Homo sapiens: one gene and its partner. The protein of the gene in region 2 interacts with the protein of the main gene of each other region in a pairwise test. Each region holds a gene or a part of one and is shown on either strand. Other genes may lie near its edges. The genes, in order: AHR and IVNS1ABP.

Region 1 (9,384 bases), on a different chromosome or scaffold from region 2:
TTCTTCTACTATACAAGATTATCTAGGGTTTCAGCAGGTAAGTATATATTATTTATATCATTTATATTATTATATCATTTACTTTTTATATATATTTAGGACACAGTTGGCCATTTGTATGTATAAAGTATCAATATATGCTGTAGAATACAGTATGTATTTGTAGCTAATAATTTTTTCTAATATTAATAATTTACTGCACTATAATTCCTTTAAACCTTTATGTGATTCATGGTTACTGTGTTTCTTCTTTCGCTTATCAAGAATCTTATATATAAGAAACTTTCAGGCACGTAGGGTCTAGGGGAGAAGATACAAAATTATTTGCTATCAAATAACTTATGGATAGCAGAGGATATATGACAACTATGAAATGAATGAGATGCTGTTAAAAAGTACAAGTAAAATCCTATGATTTATACCTTTAATTCTGATTTATTTGGATTATGGAAGTTACCCTAAATCAAATGGTATGTAAGCTGACCTAAATAATGTGTAACAGGTGGGTGGTCAAGAAAACATAGGAATATTGAAGTACTGTAAGCATTAGACTGGAAGTCATTGAAGGAAACAGACGTGTCTGACTTGTTTGATGTTATTGAATGAACAGTGAATAGATGGAATTATAAATATTTGATATATTGGAAGGGCAAGAACATCTTTTATGGTTTGAGAACAGATTGTAACATTTGAATGCTTGCTATTCTCATATATCTGGTTCTCAAATTGTACTGTGCACAAGAATCACCTGAAGACCTTGATAAAACTTGGTCATCCCTGTGAGCCCCATTGTCAGATATTCTGAATCAGTAGTTCACAGTGGGGCCCATGAATTTGCATTTCTATTAAGCTCACAAGGCTGCTGGTCTTAATAACAGTTATATAGACTAGAGCTTCAACTATATTATATACCCAGTGGAAACCACTGAAGGGTTTTGTTACAGGGGGTGTGTATATTTCAACTTGTGTTTCAGATGCAACTTTTGGAAATTGTGTAATGGTTGGCATCAAGATGATTTAATACTAGAAGATTAGGTTCCTAGGAAGATTTAAGTGTAGATGACTAAAGTAGTGGTATCTAGCTACTACTGCTACCACAAAGTCTAAACTCCTGATTTCTTGCATTCTAAAGAAAATACATTAATGTCCATAGAAAAGCCTGTTTGAAGCCTAATGTATTATATAACTGTCTTAATCAGGATTTGATATTGTGATTTATATTAGTAAGAAAATCAGAGAGATTAGCCATTTTCCAATCCATTTTTTTCTCGCATATACACATGGATTTTTTTCCTAAAAGAATATTCATATCTGACGCAAGTGGTAGATTAAGACACCATTTTTAAAACTGCAAGTTATGACTCGCTCATGGGTATGCAGTCGAGACAGTGGATCACTATCAAACTGTTTTTTAGTTGTTTAGGATAGAATAAAATAATATAGAATACACAGTGTTATCTCATGTAATAATGGTAAGTGTTTTGTGAAACTTTTCCATGTGTTTATGTCTGTGCACACACCTGTGACAGATGGAAATGTATTTTTTATCATAACTTGCAGTTAAAAAAAAAGGAAAACTCTGGTTTAAGCACTAAGGACTCAGCACCGTAGTAAATGGTGAGAGGCAAGAGAAGGAAAGTGGGTTTAATATGGTAAAGGCACAATCCCTTGCTCTTGTGGAGTCTACTTGGAGTGAAAATTTTATATGAAGAAAATTTTAGAGAACAGTGAAGGAAATACATAAAGAATACCATTAAGCTTAGAGAAGTCAAAGAGGCCTGGGGTGGTTAGGAAAAGCTGCATGGAAGAGATAAGAATCTAAAAACTAACAAATGAATATGGAACATAAACAGATTTTAATATGTTGCATTTAAGGAATGGGGATGTGACTTATTTGAGCAAGAGCATTCATGTTGGGAACTGATGACAAGTAACTTTTGGCTTATCTGTTGTAGTGCCAGTCTCTTTAGCTTTTTCTACCTTAGGTTCTATCTTAGGTGACTAGGGAATTTTAGGAATCATTCAATTCGTATTCATCACCACTAGCAAGCACCCACTAATCTAAATAGGCTTTAAAATTAATTTAGCCATATTTTTTAATCAGTCCTTTTGTTGTATTCCTTGTATCTTTTTTCTTTAGTCTGATGTCATACATCAGAGTGTATATGAACTTATCCATACCGAAGACCGAGCTGAATTTCAGCGTCAGCTACACTGGGCATTAAATCCTTCTCAGTGTACAGAGTCTGGACAAGGAATTGAAGGTAAGAATTGATGGTACAAAAAATAGTGTTGGTAGTTTTTAAATATGAGTCTGTGAAAGGAGGCTGGGAACCTGTAGGGTCATAGAACTCCATGATAGGGAAGTAGTGGAAAGATGTAAAGTCTGCAATCATAGGCCACAGCTAGGTCACAAAGAGCCTGATGAGCTAAGGAATATTTTGGCAAATGAGAGCCATTTAATGAGTTTCAGGCAACAGAGTATTGCCATAGTCAGTAATGTATTTTATAAAAATAAGTAGTACCTTCATGAAAGATGGAAGGAAGGTACAAGGTTGATACCTGAGTGCATGTAAATTATTGTGTTTAAAATGCACCAAAGAAAAAAGTAAGCTAGCATATGCAAGTATAAAAATGCTTTTCTCAATGCAAAAAATGTTTTTGGAAATTTGTTAAAGTGTTAAGAAAACAAAAATGCATTAGAAAATATGAAAATTGTTGACAGTGATAGCTCAATAAAAATTTAAAAAATTATGCAAGTTCTATCTGATAAAAGTGATATTTAATAAACTTTTAGTTTCTTGTCATTAGCTCTTTTGAAAATGATTTTTTTGTATTCAGAACACAGACTCCAGTTTAGAAACTAATACAAATTTTACCTATTCAAGTGCTTAATTTTACAGCAAAATGGAAAGTAAATTTTGTTTTGCCTTTATTTCTACAGAAGCCACTGGTCTCCCCCAGACAGTAGTCTGTTATAACCCAGACCAGATTCCTCCAGAAAACTCTCCTTTAATGGAGAGGTGCTTCATATGTCGTCTAAGGTGTCTGCTGGATAATTCATCTGGTTTTCTGGTAAGGTACAAAATTTTATGATACTGGCTTTTACTATTGTTACAATAAAAGCTTGAGGCAAATTTAATTTAGCAAAATATAATTCAGCAGAGAACTATTCCCAAATCAGGCAACCCTCAGAACCAGAGAGCTTCAGAGAGCTCACTTAAAAACATGGGCTGGAGCATTTATGAACAGAAAATGCAAGTGAGGTACAGAAATGGCTTGATTGATTACAGCTTGGGATTTGCCTTATTTGAAGATGATCTGATTAGTTGGCCACCTGTGACTGACTGAGACTCAGCTATTTGGTTACAAAAGTTTAATTCTACTGTTAGGCTTTCCGTTAGCTTATATAGTAAATGAAGTTGCAATTCCTTGGTAAGGACTTAAGGAGCAGAGGCATCTTCAGCCCAAATTTAGTTTAACATTAAGTTATAGAAAAAACAAGCCAATTTTCTTTGGTTATCTTTGATTTCAGCTTTAAAAATCTGCTACCAAATAATTTGATAAAGGAAAGTAACATTTTAAAGTAATTATTTCTGATTTTGACTATCTTCTATAACTCAGAAAACTGTTCTTTAGGATATAGTAACAAAAATTGAGTGAAATAACACGAAGCCTTGTATTTTGACTATTTTAGGATTTTTAAGGTATGAGAGAATTATGTAGCCCTTTTTTAATAGGAGGATGCTTACCATCTTGGGATTGAATGCCTGCTAGACAGAGAAATTATGGCCTTTCCATATGTCTCAAATAACTGCCACATAGAAAAACGATTGTATATTCATGATTGTGGAATCATCATTTGATAGGAGATGCTGTTTTCTTGTTACAAAGTCTGAACACCTGCATAGGAGTTGACTGTAGGGAACAGCTTAGGATTCCTCAGAGTGGACTTGTCTGTTATCTCATTGTATCCTTAGCTCATGTTACCAAGTACAGGAGAAGAAAATACAAAGTATATTGTATATTCTTTTTGTGAATAACAAGGAATTTGAAACAGATAATCAAATCTTAAATTAACATTACCAAGCAATGATTTTTGTTTATGTGTTTATTTCTGAAGAGGATTTTGCTGACCCAGAATTAGAATTATGCTTTGAGACAGTTTTCCCAGTGTTATTGCTCATGAACAATTAGTATGTAGAGTCATGTCCTGCATAATGATGCTTTGGTCAATAACAGACCATGTATATGATGGTAGTCCCATGAGATCATAATGGAGCCGAAAAATCCCTATCACTTAATGATGTCATAGCATTGCTCACATGTTGATGGTGATGCTGATGGAAGCAAACCTGTGTTGCCAGTCATATAAAAAGTATAGCACATACAATTATATATGATACATAATACTTGAAAATAAAACAATAATAAATCACTATGTATTTACTATTAATCATTATTTTACTTTATTTTTAAATGTATTATACTTTTAATTATTTTATTTTAATCATTATTTTAGAATAAGGTTAACTGTAAAACAGGCTCAGGCAGGTCCTTCAGGAAATATTCCAAAAGAAGGCATTGTTATCACAGGAGATGACAGCTCCATGCATGTTATTGCCCCCGCAGACCTTCCAGTGGGACAAGATGTAGAGGTGGAAGATAGGATCATTAATGATCCTCACCCTGTACAGACCTAAGCTAATGTGTGGGTTTGTGTCTTAGTTTTTAACAAAAAAAGTTTAAAAAGTAAAAAAATTAAAAATTAAAAAATAGAAGAAAGCTTATAGAATAAGGATATAAAGAAAGAAAATGTTTTTGTATGGCTGTACACTGTGTTTAAGTGTTATTACAGAAGAGTCAAAAGTTAAAAATGCAAAAGTTTATGAAGTAAAAATGTTACAGTAAACTGTGCTGGGATTACAGGCATAAGCCACTGCACCTGGCCAAAAGGAAAATATTTTTTATAAATTCAGCGTAGCCTAAGTGTATAGTGTTTATAAACTCTATAGTAGTGTACGGTAATGTCTCAGGCCTTCACATTCACTCACCACTCACTCACTGACTAAACCAAAGCAACTTTCAGTCCTGCCTACCTTGTTTACAATAAGTGCTCTTATACAGGTATACCATTTTTTGTCTTTTATACTGTATTTTTACTGTATATTTTCTATGTTTAGATACACAAATACTTACCATCATGTTACAATTGCTTTAAGTATTCAGTACGATAGCATGCTGTACAGGTTTGTAGCCTAGGAACAAAAGGCTATACTGTATAGCTTAGATGCGTAGTAAGCTATACCATCTAGGTTTGTGAACCTACCCTCTGATGTTCACAGGATAATGAAATTGCCTAAGGACACATTTCACAGAACATGCCCCTTTTGTTAAATGACATGTGAGTGTATGTCTGAGGTGGAATATCTGTGTGCAGGAGGGCCTTTTCCTCCTTGTGCTGCTATTATTTTGATGTCAGAACCATCCCTTGGACTGGTTGATATTGTTTTAAGCAATTAAATATATCATGTTCATGTTTAAGTGCCTTTGTTTTCCCTGTCTTCTAAATTTCTTCCATATCTTTACTCAGTAGGGCTCTGCATTCTTTATATGTTTTCATGATGATTCATTTTAGTGTCTTAATAAAATTATATTTTGCCTCTATAGAAAAGATTATGAACTATGCAGTATGCTATGAGCTGTGATATAGTTCATGTATGCTTGAAAATGAATGTTTACTTTAGGACTTTATCACCATTCAGGATATATTGATTGCCTGGTGTGCAAGGAGCTGTGTGAGGTGAAAATGATAGGGTAATGGCAAGCTTGGAAAATGATATAGGTTTTCATGTTATGACCATTAGGAACAAGGAGTGGTTCACTTATCCCTTTAGAATATTTTTCATATTACTCTTTGAGATAGATTTAATGGGCGTCCCATGGAGAGAGGAGTGAAGGAAACTAACAGTTCTCAGCTTCAGGAATATTTATGGAATTATCAAGAACCCTAGAGGCAGCCATAATGGAGCCTTTTAAAAAGGCACTATTTTATATTGTTAATTTTAATGAACTTTTTTGTTGTTGTTGCTTTTTTAAGGCAATGAATTTCCAAGGGAAGTTAAAGTATCTTCATGGACAGAAAAAGAAAGGGAAAGATGGATCAATACTTCCACCTCAGTTGGCTTTGTTTGCGATAGCTACTCCACTTCAGCCACCATCCATACTTGAAATCCGGACCAAAAATTTTATCTTTAGAACCAAACACAAACTAGACTTCACACCTATTGGTTGTGATGCCAAGTAAGTGAGACTTTTTCACTTTTATTTTATTGGATGTACATTATGTTTCAGTAAGTCTCTCTTAGCATGTAAAACATACAGTGTATGTAATATTGTTTATTATTAGATTGGCTATTATCGTACATTCTTCCAGTGTAGCCTTTTACAGTAAAATAATTTAATCAGGCTCACAAATCATCTTTTTAATTTTTGCAATACTTGTCTCAAATGATGATGTTCTTATATATTAGTAAGGTTTATTCTTCTGATGACATTTATGTTGGTTTGTTTTACATTTTTAAATGGCACAAATGTTATTTGATTTCTAGCCCCAGAAGTTTTAGTAACTTTCAGAAAATTGTGAGCAGGAGTCTGATATTAAACATTTATATCATATCAAACATATCAGTGCTTTTCTCCTTTCTAATGTGGGAATGCAGAGAGGTAATTAGAAAAACCTTCTTCCCTAAAAATAGATTATAAAAACATTCCAGATTTTTATTAAAGATGTTCTGTTACCCATACATCTGCTCTATTAGATTCATTTTTAGCATACTAATTTCCATGGATTTATTCAGGAAAAGAAAATAGGCTGAAACTGAAATTTGCAATCATAAGCAAAGAAGATCAGTTTACATGGATGTGTTTAATTTCACATCTACTTATGTGAAATTCTAAATGTGAACTAAAACATATTGCAGAAACTAGCGTAAAACCAATGAATTTATCTTGGTTATTTCATTTATGTTAAATCTTAATCCATTCTTATTTTACCTTTTTTTATTTTAAACAGAGGAAGAATTGTTTTAGGATATACTGAAGCAGAGCTGTGCACGAGAGGCTCAGGTTATCAGTTTATTCATGCAGCTGATATGCTTTATTGTGCCGAGTCCCATATCCGAAGTAAGTTGTAGTTCCTTATGAACATGTCAGAAGAAAACGGCATATACTGTTGTACATGTTTCAAATTCTTACGTAATGTAAAGTGTTTAAGTAAAGTATATGGATAAACTTCTACTTAGTAACATATCATTATGATTAACCAGGGTTACACTCTTTGTTCATTAACTTGTCTACACCTGCCATGTAGAAATATTGTTGTTTAGTTATTAAAAAATGACCATTTTGGCCCATGAAGTTTTGCTTGGGAATTTTTTAATTACATCGTTATCAATTCATAAATCTATGTTAATATTGTAACAATAATAGTGTTAATAATTCTAGTTTAAAATTATAAAGTATTAGGCTGTAGGAAAATATTCCCTATTTAAAATGAAAATAATTTTTTCCCCAACTTATGTTCTCTCTATACTTTCCTGTGTTACTAGAATTGTTTGGTACATAATCTTCCCTTTAACATTTAAAATAATAAATTTAAAACAACTCTGAAAAACTATTTCCATGCCTTTTATTATTTTTTGTTTAAAATTTATTGTCTTTGGGGATAAAGGAAATACATCCAGAACTATGTCACAAGAGCTTTGTTTTAGGAATAATCTTTACTATATTGATTTGGGGGTTTGATAATTTAATTTTTTAATTTTATTTTAGTGATTAAGACTGGAGAAAGTGGCATGATAGTTTTCCGGCTTCTTACAAAAAACAACCGATGGACTTGGGTCCAGTCTAATGCACGCCTGCTTTATAAAAATGGAAGACCAGATTATATCATTGTAACTCAGAGACCACTAACGTAAGCACAAATAATGTTTCCTGTTTTAACAGTTTTGTTTTCATAAGTCCTCTTATGTGAAAGCATAAAAATAATTCAAGCAGACTTTAGTCTGTAAATAAAAATTGAAAAGTTTAATTCATCTAGAAAGAAGAGCACAGGTGAGAGACATTGAGAAGATAGAATTGACGAACTTGATTGAGAGCTACATGTGCAGAGCTATAGAAAGAATAATAAAACTCTAGGGTTTTATCTTGGGCATATGAAAGACACATGAAAAGCTAGTGTCATTGGTAAAAAAGAAGAAAAATATAACAATGCTTTATTTAGAATATATTCTCTAAACCCAGCAGTGATTTTAAGAGTTTCTTACACATGCTGCAGATGAGTCCTTTATCAAATATTTGTATTGCAAATGTTTCCTCCCACTCTGGAGAATTGATTTTTGTCTGTAGCTTGAGGTAAGGATTGATTCCCCCCAGCCATTATACGTATACCCAATTGACCAGTAACATTGAAAAGATGATTTACCGAGAAGGTCATTGTTTCCCGGCTGCGCTGTATTTTGATCAGGGGATTTTGTCTGTGGTTCTCTGTCTGGATTGTGTTGTTCTATTAATAGCTCCATTAGTGCAGTTGTCTATTTTGTCTAGCATTACACTGTCTTAGTTATTCTATCTTTATTATATATTTCTATGTCAGAGTGTGTCATTTTGTTTGTTTTGCCTTTTTTGTTCTCCTTCAAGATTGCCTTGGTTCTTCTTTGCCCTCTATAATTCCATATACATTTTAGAAAGCAGTTGTCTGAAAATCTGTTGAGATTTTGAGTGCAATTACCTTGAAACTGTAGATCATTTGGGGAGAATTAACATCTTTTTAATACTGAATCTTTGAGCCCATGAACATGATGAATGTATGTATGTGTATAAGTACCCATGGAAGTACATGAGTATGTGTGTACCATATGTATATGAGTGCATGGGTATGTGTGTACCTCTACAAATTTGTCACTTCTCCCTTGATCAATGTTTCTAGAAGGCACTTTTTTTAATTAGATTTTATTAGTCTTTATTAGGATCCAACTTTTGGTTTATTGATTTTTTTCTATTTTATACATTTGTTTTCAATTTTAATTATGTCTGCTCATTATTATTTTCTTCCTTCTACTTTCTTTGGGTATAATTTATCATTTTTTGCAACTTTTAAAAAATATATACTTAAACATATATATCAGTTTCCCTTTAAGTACAGCATTACAACCCTCATCTTTTGCTATCTTATTTTTATTATTTAATTGAAAATACTGGCTAATTTGTTTTTATTTTTATTCATGAATTATTTAGAAATACAGTGTTACTGTACTTTTTGGTGTTTGGGGATTTTTCTAGTTGCCTTTTTATGATTGACTTTTAGCTTAATTCCATTGTAGT
Region 2 (9,384 bases):
AGCACACAGAGCAGTGCTAGCTTGCTGCAGTCCCTATTTATTTGAAATCTTTAATAGTGATAGTGATCCTCATGGAATTTCTCACGTTAAATTTGATGATCTCAATCCAGAAGCTGTTGAAGTCTTGTTGAATTATGCCTACACTGCTCAGTAAGTACATTTGAAGTAAACCATATAATTAGGGAATATCTTCAGAAAATTCCAAGTCTTGCTACATATATTTAAATTAAGTGTGTTTTAAGGCTTTGGTATCATAAGTAACTTTTTTTTTAAATAGGTTGAAAGCAGATAAGGAATTGGTAAAAGATGTTTATTCTGCAGCAAAAAAGCTGAAGATGGATCGAGTAAAGCAGGTAGAGTATCAGAAGTAAATAAAATCATTTATGGAGTCTTATTTTGTGTGATTGCAATGCTGAATTTGTCATAAAACATCTTGTTAGTTTCAAGGACTTGAACATGTCCCTTTTTTCCCTCAGAGTAGTCAATATGTTATTTTAACTGTTTGGCTATAATAATGTAGCAAGATCACACTTCTTCTCAGATAATTTGGGCTGAAGTCTGACCCTTTCAGCAATCTTCTCTGGTAGGGTGGCTATGTCAGCCTTTGATAGCATGAATTAAAATTAATATTTTTCTTAAGAGTTAATCACATAACTTATATCCTCAATTCTGTGTTCTCCTAAACTTCCTGTGCTCTCTAAAAGTATTCCTTCTAGAATTTAATGCCAGTAAAAAGTACTTTTGGAAAACAGGCATTTAATCCCCTAATGCATGGGGGTCAGTAAACTTAAGGCCTACTGGCCAGCTGCCTATTTTTATAAAGTTTTATTCAAACACAGCCATGTGTGTTCATTTACATATGGTCTACACTGCTTTCCAGCTACAGTGACGGAATTGAGCAGTTGTGACAAACAGAATGGCCTACAAGCCTAAAATGCTTTTACTATCTGGCCCTTTAAGAAAAAGTTTGATTTGCTAGCCCTTCTTCTAATACCACTCCTTTGTTCAAAAATCCTTCCTTAATTTACAGTACATATCCCTGCATTTAGTTTCTAGATTTTCCCTTATATAGTTGCTGTCTTTCCAAAACTATTTCCTAGTTATCTTTTCTCCAACCAAATTAAATTGTTTGCAGCATCTTCTCTACTTCTGTCTGCATTCAACATCAACATCATCTCTCCTGTAGAGCCCAGTTCAGATACTGCGTTTCATGAAGCCTTACCAAATTATTCTACTTGAAAATACTTATGTGAACTTACATAGCATTTCAATTTGTTGTACCTCTCCTTAAACTAAAACTTACATATCTGTATGGCATAATTAGATGTTTATCATTTGTATACGTGTTATTACCACTATTAACATTTGTTGTATTAAGACAGTGATTTTTGATTCTTTGTATCTTCACATAGTCTTTACCACACTGAACATTAAATATTTGTTGAATAAAAGATATGTAAGTGTTGGCACTCATATATTTCTTTTCCAAGGTTTGTGGTGATTATTTACTGTCTAGAATGGATGTTACCAGCTGCATCTCTTACCGAAATTTTGCAAGTTGTATGGGAGACTCCCGTTTGTTGAATAAGGTTGATGCTTATATTCAGGAGCATTTGTTACAAATTTCTGAAGAGGAGGAGTTTCTTAAGCTTCCAAGGCTAAAGGTAAGGAGTAAAGTCTATAAACAGATATATACTATCTAGTTCCAGGCGTGGAATCTTGGTCTGTGTTTCAAGCAAGTGAGTAATGATTATGAAATAATACATTGAAATTATATTGTTATTCTTAGCAGCGTAATGGGTTTCTCCCTACCAGTTTGTTTACTTTGTTTTTGATTCAGTAATCAAATTCCTTACAAATTCCTGGTTCCTTACAAATTCCTGGTTCCTTACAAATTAGAGTAAATGTATGGAATGAATTGTGCATCTGTGACAACTTTATTATGAAATTGGGAATTAAGCTGAGAACTAGGAGCCCAACACTGATCCATGTCATTGTTTTTCCCAATTCTAGTTGGAGGTAATGCTTGAAGATAATGTTTGCTTGCCCAGCAATGGCAAATTATATACAAAGGTAATCAACTGGGTGCAGCGTAGCATCTGGGAGAATGGAGACAGTCTGGAAGAGCTGATGGAAGAGGTTAGTTTTAAAGTAAATGGGATTCAACCATTTTTAAAAATTATTTTGCTATAACATGAAGGATTCCCTTTCACTTTTATTTTATAACCATGACCCTAAAGAATTTAAATTTTGCTATAGGTACCCCTAAGCTGAGAAACAGGGGGGGTGTCCAGGTGAGCTGAATGAACTGTTCAGTTTGGTCTTCTGCTTTTCTTTTTTTATTTCTTTGCTTATTATGTGCTGTTAACTTTCTTTAAAGTAGCATGTAATTTGCTTTAGAAATGGGAAGTGGTACTGAAATTTTCTGTAGATTCTTAATTTTTCTTCACAGGTTTTTGCTTTAAATTTGACAAGTAGGTAAAAGCTTCTAATGGTTGTTCCTCCCCATTGATTTATCTCCCCATAGGTTTATTAACAAAACTAGGATACCCAAGACTGAAGAAACAAGAAGAAACCTCAAGTGTATTGACACGTAAAGAAGCAGCAGTCCTGCCCCAGTTCTCCTAAGAAAAATCCGCTGTGGGCAGAGAACGATGATGATTTAATGGTGTTTACTCCTTTACAGGATTCTTGTCTTTAAAGCTGTGTGTTTTTCAATGGTGTTGTTCATACATATAGTCACTCACTTAACTTGGGCTACTTTTAAAAAAAATACACAAGATAAAATTGATGGAGAAATGGTGGGAATTGAAAACACGCAGGTGGAGCAGTGGAGTAACCTTGAGTTTCTCTCTCCACTTAAACCTTTCGGAGTTCCTTTATGAGGGCTTACCAAATCTGTTAGGCCTGCAGAAACACTGTCATCATTATGGTCTAAAAGGGCTAACAGATTATCTTTAAATTCTATGATTCCCACTTGAAAGTCAGATGCATTTGCCATGTATTTGCATCTGTCTCAATGGAGATGACTCTACAGCTTGCTTGAATTTTTGCATTTGTTTTTTCTTTGTTTTTCTTGACATTGCTTACAGGAAGGAAATATGTTTATGCAAACCAGACCACTTATCTGCAAAGGTGTAAACTATATTCAGTATTTTATTGTAAATATGTATATTCTTTAAGAGTATATATTGTACTAGTGCTTTTTTTCTTACTGTTATATGATAGAAGCTATGAAAAAAATGAAGATTTCTTTCAAGCCAATCAAGCCAACGACTCTTCAGCCAGTATTGGAAGATTTTGTATTTGATTTTGGTTTTTTGTTTTTGTTTTTTAATTTTTACCACCATGACATGTATTTTTCTTTACCTCCGGATCCTGCCAGAGTAATATGTCAAGAAGCTCAAGAAGCACACTGGAGGTTACCTTGAGGCGTTTGTGTAATCTGCATACTAGTGGAGTAGCCATGGTGACCGTAGCCACATGGGTGTTCTGTTGCTGTTTTGCAGGTTCAAACCTTGTACTACTCAGCTGATCACAAGCTGCTTGATGGGAACCTACTAGATGGACAGGCTGAGGTGTTTGGCAGTGATGATGACCACATTCAGTTTGTGCAGGTACACATTGCACAGTCTGAGGTAACCTCAGGTTAAAATTTGACTAGAGAATTTGATAGCATACTTAAATTTTCCTTTAATAAAGGAAAGTGGACCAATTTCATTGGTATAACTGGACAGAAACATTTTTGGGAGAAAACAAGCATATCTTAGAGTTAGTATTTTTGCCACATGAAAAGATATTAACAAATTAGGAAACCCTATTGAAATTTTTTTCTCATAAAGCAGGAATTACAAACAGTAAAGGCCAATAAGATGGAACAATATAGAAATTATTTGGGAAGATTATGAAAAGCAGTTGTTTGTGTCAGGCATGACTGATAGTTTTTTTTAAAAAGGGGCAGGGGGACTTAAATTGTTGATGGCTATGAAAGAAATTTTTGGATGTTACCTTAACTACTGAGCTGTCTTACTGGAAATTAGAAATGGTATAGTTAAGATGGACTATACAATGTAATAAGTCTAAAAGTGGTGGATCATATGTTAAAACCTGATCTAGATGTTTCTTTAACCAAGATGAATTAAAATATAGTAGAGTTCCACTGTGCTGATTGAGTTACTTTGCCTTTTATAAAATCCAATTTCATTTTTCCCCTATGAGTAAACACATAATTATTCAGACACATTATCAACAATTACTAGAGAACAAACTTCTCAAGTATAAATTTTTTAAGTTTATGGACAAATACAGAAAAGTACACAAGTCATAATTACCACATAGTGAACCTACCAGTGTAAACACTACCCAAGTCAAGAAGAGGTTTCTAGCATCCCGGCAGCCTTTCTCTTGCCTCTTCCCAACCGTTTCCGTATAGTGCTCCCAAAGGAAACCATTATCCTACCTTCTGACACATTAAATTAGTTTGGCTATGCTTGAAAAAATTTATATAAATGGTCATATAGTATATATTTTTATTTGGCCTTTAGCTCAAATTATGTTTTTGAGGGACAAGCTATAAAGCAGTCGACTCAGCCCAGACTAAGGAATGCTTTTCTTTAAAAATCAGAGGGTAAGTGGTAGACTTAGTAGTAGCCTATATGGTTACAAATTATCAGGTGTTAGCTCTCTCAGGTGTCCTGTGGCAACAGTGAGTGAATATTTCTAAAAGTTTTGGAATTTGAATTAGTTGAGAACCTATGTTTGTGCATTTTGAATATATTGAGGATATTTTCCCCCTTAACTCTAAACATTTTGAGTTAACATTTTAAAAGTACATTTTCAACATGCAGAGGTTGAGTGCCCAATAAGTGGCAGGCCATAATGTTCGGTATGGCAACACAAAAATGTGTAAGAGACAGTTTCTGCTTGTAGGACCTTCTAAGAGTGGGCAAAACAATACAGGCTTATAAGAGGTAGCTACGAAAGGCCTAAAGGAGAGGACACAGTGAGACAGGAGAGAAGCCAGGGATATTTCACACAAGAGGTAACTTTTGAGCAGTGTTAGGATTTAGAGGAGTCTGCATAGCAGATAAAGGGAGAGGTGTTAGCAAAGAGTATCTGTGAGGATGATACTCTTGGAATTGCAGGTCATAAGACTGGGAAAGTAGGTAAATGCTCCCTGAATGGGGCTTATACTTTATCCTATAGGCAGTGGGAAGCCTTAGGTAAGAATACAGTGATACGAAAGTTTTGCATTCACTTTAGTAATGGTGAAAAACTGGGGAACAGTCTATTAGGTGGCAGTCTTTGGGCTGGAATATCCCAACTGATTTCTGGTTTTATTTTCTAAAATTGTTGCCTTGGACCCTTCCTATTTTTATAACCAGACACAGAAAATCAATAAAAGTTTGAGCCCAGTTTATAGACTATTGCCAGCAGTAGTTCAGGTTTTAAAAAAATGATGAGGGATTAATCTAGGGGCATGAAGGAGAAAGGATAGATTTTTTATTTATGTCTATATATAAATAGACATTTATATTTACAAAGGTTGACTTAGCAGGCCTTAGTGATTGCTTAGCAAGATTAGGGAAAAGAAAGAATTTGAGAATAAGTGGGATTCTGACATGTGTGACTCATTAGAATGTGATGCCATGAATAGAGATCATGAAGAGGATGCGAGGGACACATGTTAGACTTCAGGAATAGAAAAAGGAGGTTGAGAAGAAGCCATTAGAAAAGTCAGAGGACAATAAGAATCTAATCATGTTGTAAAAGCTACCTAAGGTAGGAGAAGAAAGTTTGAAGGAGGACTAAACACTGTCAAGTTCTCTGGGAGGTCATGTAAAATAAGGTTTAGGGATATATTCTTTACATATAAAGGATTTAATCAGCATTTCTATATTAGGCTTGTTATTAGGCATTGCTTTTGGGCCTTTCTCTTTCACAGTCATTTTCTCTTAATTATAGTTTGTACATTAGAACAGTTTTTTTACTTCAGTACAGCCTCAATGTAAGCATCATCCATTTGTGATATTTGGATCCCTTCTTCCCATAGGTTGGGATGAGGTTTTATGTACCTTGTAATTCATAATAATAGATAAGGTTAGATAAGTCTAACCTTATTTTTTATTCTTAATATTCATAGTATAAAAGTGATATGAAAGATGCATTCACAACTTTAGTAACAGTGGAAAACAGCCTGTCATAGTGTAAATCTGTTTTATAGTATGACATAACTTGTCATAGTATAAAAAGGATGGGGTTTATCTTCATAATTCCTAATCTTTATTTTAGTTGTATTGCCTTGGGCAATGCATATCTTCTTGAGTTTCAATATTTTTATCTATAAAATGGGTAGATAATATCACCCTCACTGGACTAAAAGAGATGATGTAAATAAAGTACCTAGTAATACCTAGGTACATAGTAAACATCTAAGTGGAATTTAATCATAACCATTGATAATGATACATTCCCTGCCTTTTCTCAAAATAGCCTACGTATGTTGTAACCACACTCAGGCCTAACTTTTGATATAGCTTTTTCTTAATAGCTTCAAGTAGCTAGCAAAATCTTTTTCTCAATTACTTGTTATATGGCTTTTTGCTTCCACTAGCAACAGAAATTTCCATTAGAAATTTTACCTATCCATGTGTTCTGGCCATCTGGACCAGCACAAGTGGGATGAGCAAACTAGGCCAGGTGCTGAAGTTGCTACCTGTTCATTTGGCAGTTCCTCTCAGAGTAGTCTTTACTCTTCCAATTCCATATGATCATATCCTTTGGAAGTGGCAAAGGCTAAAGTAATTGGAAGGAAGCCATCAAGGAAAACTCATACATGAGAACACATGTGTAAAGTAGTTCTCTTACAATCATTTGGAAATTGGCAGCTTTGTTCATTTCTCCCTCTTTAGTATTCCTGTATATTCTACTTTTGTGAATATTTGGTTGTTTTTAGTAATGTTTCATTTCTGATTACTATTTTCTTGTGTTTTGATGTAATTTTGTCTAGAAAACCACTCTATAATACCTATAAGGTAATCCTAAAGAAATATTCTTTAAGTGTTTCTTGTAATTGCCACTTTTTTCCTGTCAAGTACTTTCAGAGAAACTGGATGAATCTATATCTGCTTACGTTTTGCTGGCATTGTATGAAGGATACCTGTACATATGATTTAGTTAGGTTTGACAATTTCATGAAAATAGTGGGTTAAATGTATTCTCTGTTAATTCACACTATTTTAAATTTATAGCATTCTTTTAAAAGATTCTATACTTAATATAAAAATAATTATAGATTGGTTTTTTCTTCTGCTGAGGTCTTGATTTGCAACATGTTTTTCAAATTGTTAAAACTGAGCTTTTTCTTACCTAGGCTAATTGTGTAGGCGTAGTTGTCTCATCATTGAGTGGAGATGGAAGTATGCCAGTAATTTGTGTCATTTGGAAAGTGTTGGCTTGAGTTAAAGTTAGTGTCCTATAAATGTCATATATAGGTGAAGGATACTCAGTGTTGTGGAATAGCTCAGGAACAAAGGTACATCAGATGTGGTCTTTGGCTAGGTTTCTGTAGCTACCTTTTGATTTTGCAGAAAAAGCCACCACGTGAGAATGGCCATAAGCAGATAAGTAGCAGTTCAACTGGATGTCTCTCTTCTCCAAATGCTACAGTACAAAGCCCTAAGCATGAGTGGAAAATCGTTGCTTCAGAAAAGACTTCAAGTAAGTATATGACACTTGCCAGATTGTTTTCAGCTTACCTATTTTTAAGAAGGAGTGTTGCCAATTTAATACCTCTTAAATTGACTACTCGAGGAAAAAACTCAGAAGCAATTAAATTTGGAAAACGAGAGCAGATTGTTCCAGTCTGGGATGTGGAGACTGGAGTCCAATTCAGGATCATATACACAAACCAAAAGTAATAATTACATCTTAAACATGGAACTCTTGTGCTTACAGATAACACTTACTTGTGCCTGGCTGTGCTGGATGGTATATTCTGTGTCATTTTTCTTCATGGGAGAAACAGCCCACAGAGCTCACCAACAAGTACTCCAAAACTAAGTAAGAGTTTAAGCTTTGAGATGCAACAAGATGAGCTAATCGAAAAGCCCATGTCTCCTATGCAGTACGCACGATCTGGTCTGGGAACAGCAGAGATGAATGGCAAACTCATAGCTGCAGGTAAGAACAGAAGCATTCAACTGGCTAAGCATGTAGATGGGCATTTTTGTGACATGCAAACTTTCAAAGAGAGGGTTTAATATGCCATCTTTCACGGCAATCCAATAAGATAGGGAAATAACAATACTATTGAATATGGCTAACCTTCAGTTCAATGTCTGTATCTAATTTTTAAAAAAATTATGTCATGGCTAAATTTTTCTAATATTCAAGCCAAGACTAAGCAGTTTATTTGTACTGATAATGCGATTTTTCAGCTATTACAAGCACTTAGTTAAAAGATCAACTAAGGCATCCTTAAAAAGTTTTAATACTTTTTCTCATTGTGCAGATTTCTTAAACTTACAGGACTGGAAACCGTGGTCCAGTTTAATATTTTAAACATAAATCTTTATGGTTTTATTTTTTACCAGGTGGCTATAACAGAGAGGAATGTCTTCGAACAGTCGAATGCTATAATCCACATACAGATCACTGGTCCTTTCTTGCTCCCATGAGAACACCAAGAGCCCGATTTCAAATGGCTGTACTCATGGTAAGCGCATTATGTTGCAGGAGCAACCCCTATTTAGCTTTTTCCTCGTAACTTCAGGATGTTAGAAATTCTCATCTCTCACTTTTGGCATAGGGCCAGCTCTATGTGGTAGGTGGATCAAATGGCCACTCAGATGACCTGAGTTGTGGAGAGATGTATGATTCAAACATAGATGACTGGATTCCTGTTCCAGAATTGAGAACTAACCGTTGTAATGCAGGTAATAATAGTTTTCTCCTGAGATATCCAGTATTTAAATATGATAATTAAATTATCAATATGTAACTTTATTTTATACTTACATAGGAGTGTGTGCTCTGAATGGAAAGTTATACATCGTTGGTGGCTCTGATCCATATGGTCAAAAAGGACTGAAAAATTGTGATGTATTTGATCCTGTAACAAAGTTGTGGACAAGCTGTGCCCCTCTTAACATTCGTAAGTTGATTTTTTTTCCTTTTTTTTTTTAAAGACCTTCAAATCAACAGTATGTGTAGTATACACTTAGAGTCTGGGAGATGTAGCAATAATCTTGACTTGACTTTTCTTGTAGGGAGACACCAGTCTGCAGTCTGTGAGCTTGGTGGTTATTTGTACATAATCGGAGGTGCAGAATCTTGGAATTGTCTGAACACAGTAGAACGATACAATCCTGAAAATAATACCTG

Evidence for each region.
Region 1: the proteins of IVNS1ABP (region 2) and AHR interact in a two-hybrid assay, tested with the Homo sapiens proteins (one study listed by BioGRID).

Annotation. Positions count from the first base shown.
Region 1 is NC_000007.14:17,327,812-17,337,195, forward strand, and holds part of AHR (aryl hydrocarbon receptor), read left to right. Parts: coding exon 1-37; intron 38-2,140; coding exon 2,141-2,264; intron 2,265-2,944; coding exon 2,945-3,075; intron 3,076-6,100; coding exon 6,101-6,303; intron 6,304-7,075; coding exon 7,076-7,185; intron 7,186-7,833; coding exon 7,834-7,975; intron 7,976-9,384. UniProt on the Homo sapiens protein: Ligand-activated transcription factor that enables cells to adapt to changing conditions by sensing compounds from the environment, diet, microbiome and cellular metabolism, and which plays important roles in development, immunity and cancer.
Region 2 is NC_000001.11:185,299,769-185,309,152, reverse strand, and holds part of IVNS1ABP (influenza virus NS1A-binding protein), read left to right. Parts: coding exon 1-150; intron 151-277; coding exon 278-353; intron 354-1,490; coding exon 1,491-1,664; intron 1,665-2,013; coding exon 2,014-2,139; intron 2,140-2,525; exon of another isoform or gene 2,526-2,665; coding exon of another isoform or gene 2,666-2,668; intron 2,669-3,509; coding exon 3,510-3,617; intron 3,618-7,589; coding exon 7,590-7,719; intron 7,720-7,956; coding exon 7,957-8,181; intron 8,182-8,594; coding exon 8,595-8,716; intron 8,717-8,809; coding exon 8,810-8,936; intron 8,937-9,022; coding exon 9,023-9,154; intron 9,155-9,269; coding exon 9,270-9,384. UniProt on the Homo sapiens protein: Involved in many cell functions, including pre-mRNA splicing, the aryl hydrocarbon receptor (AHR) pathway, F-actin organization and protein ubiquitination.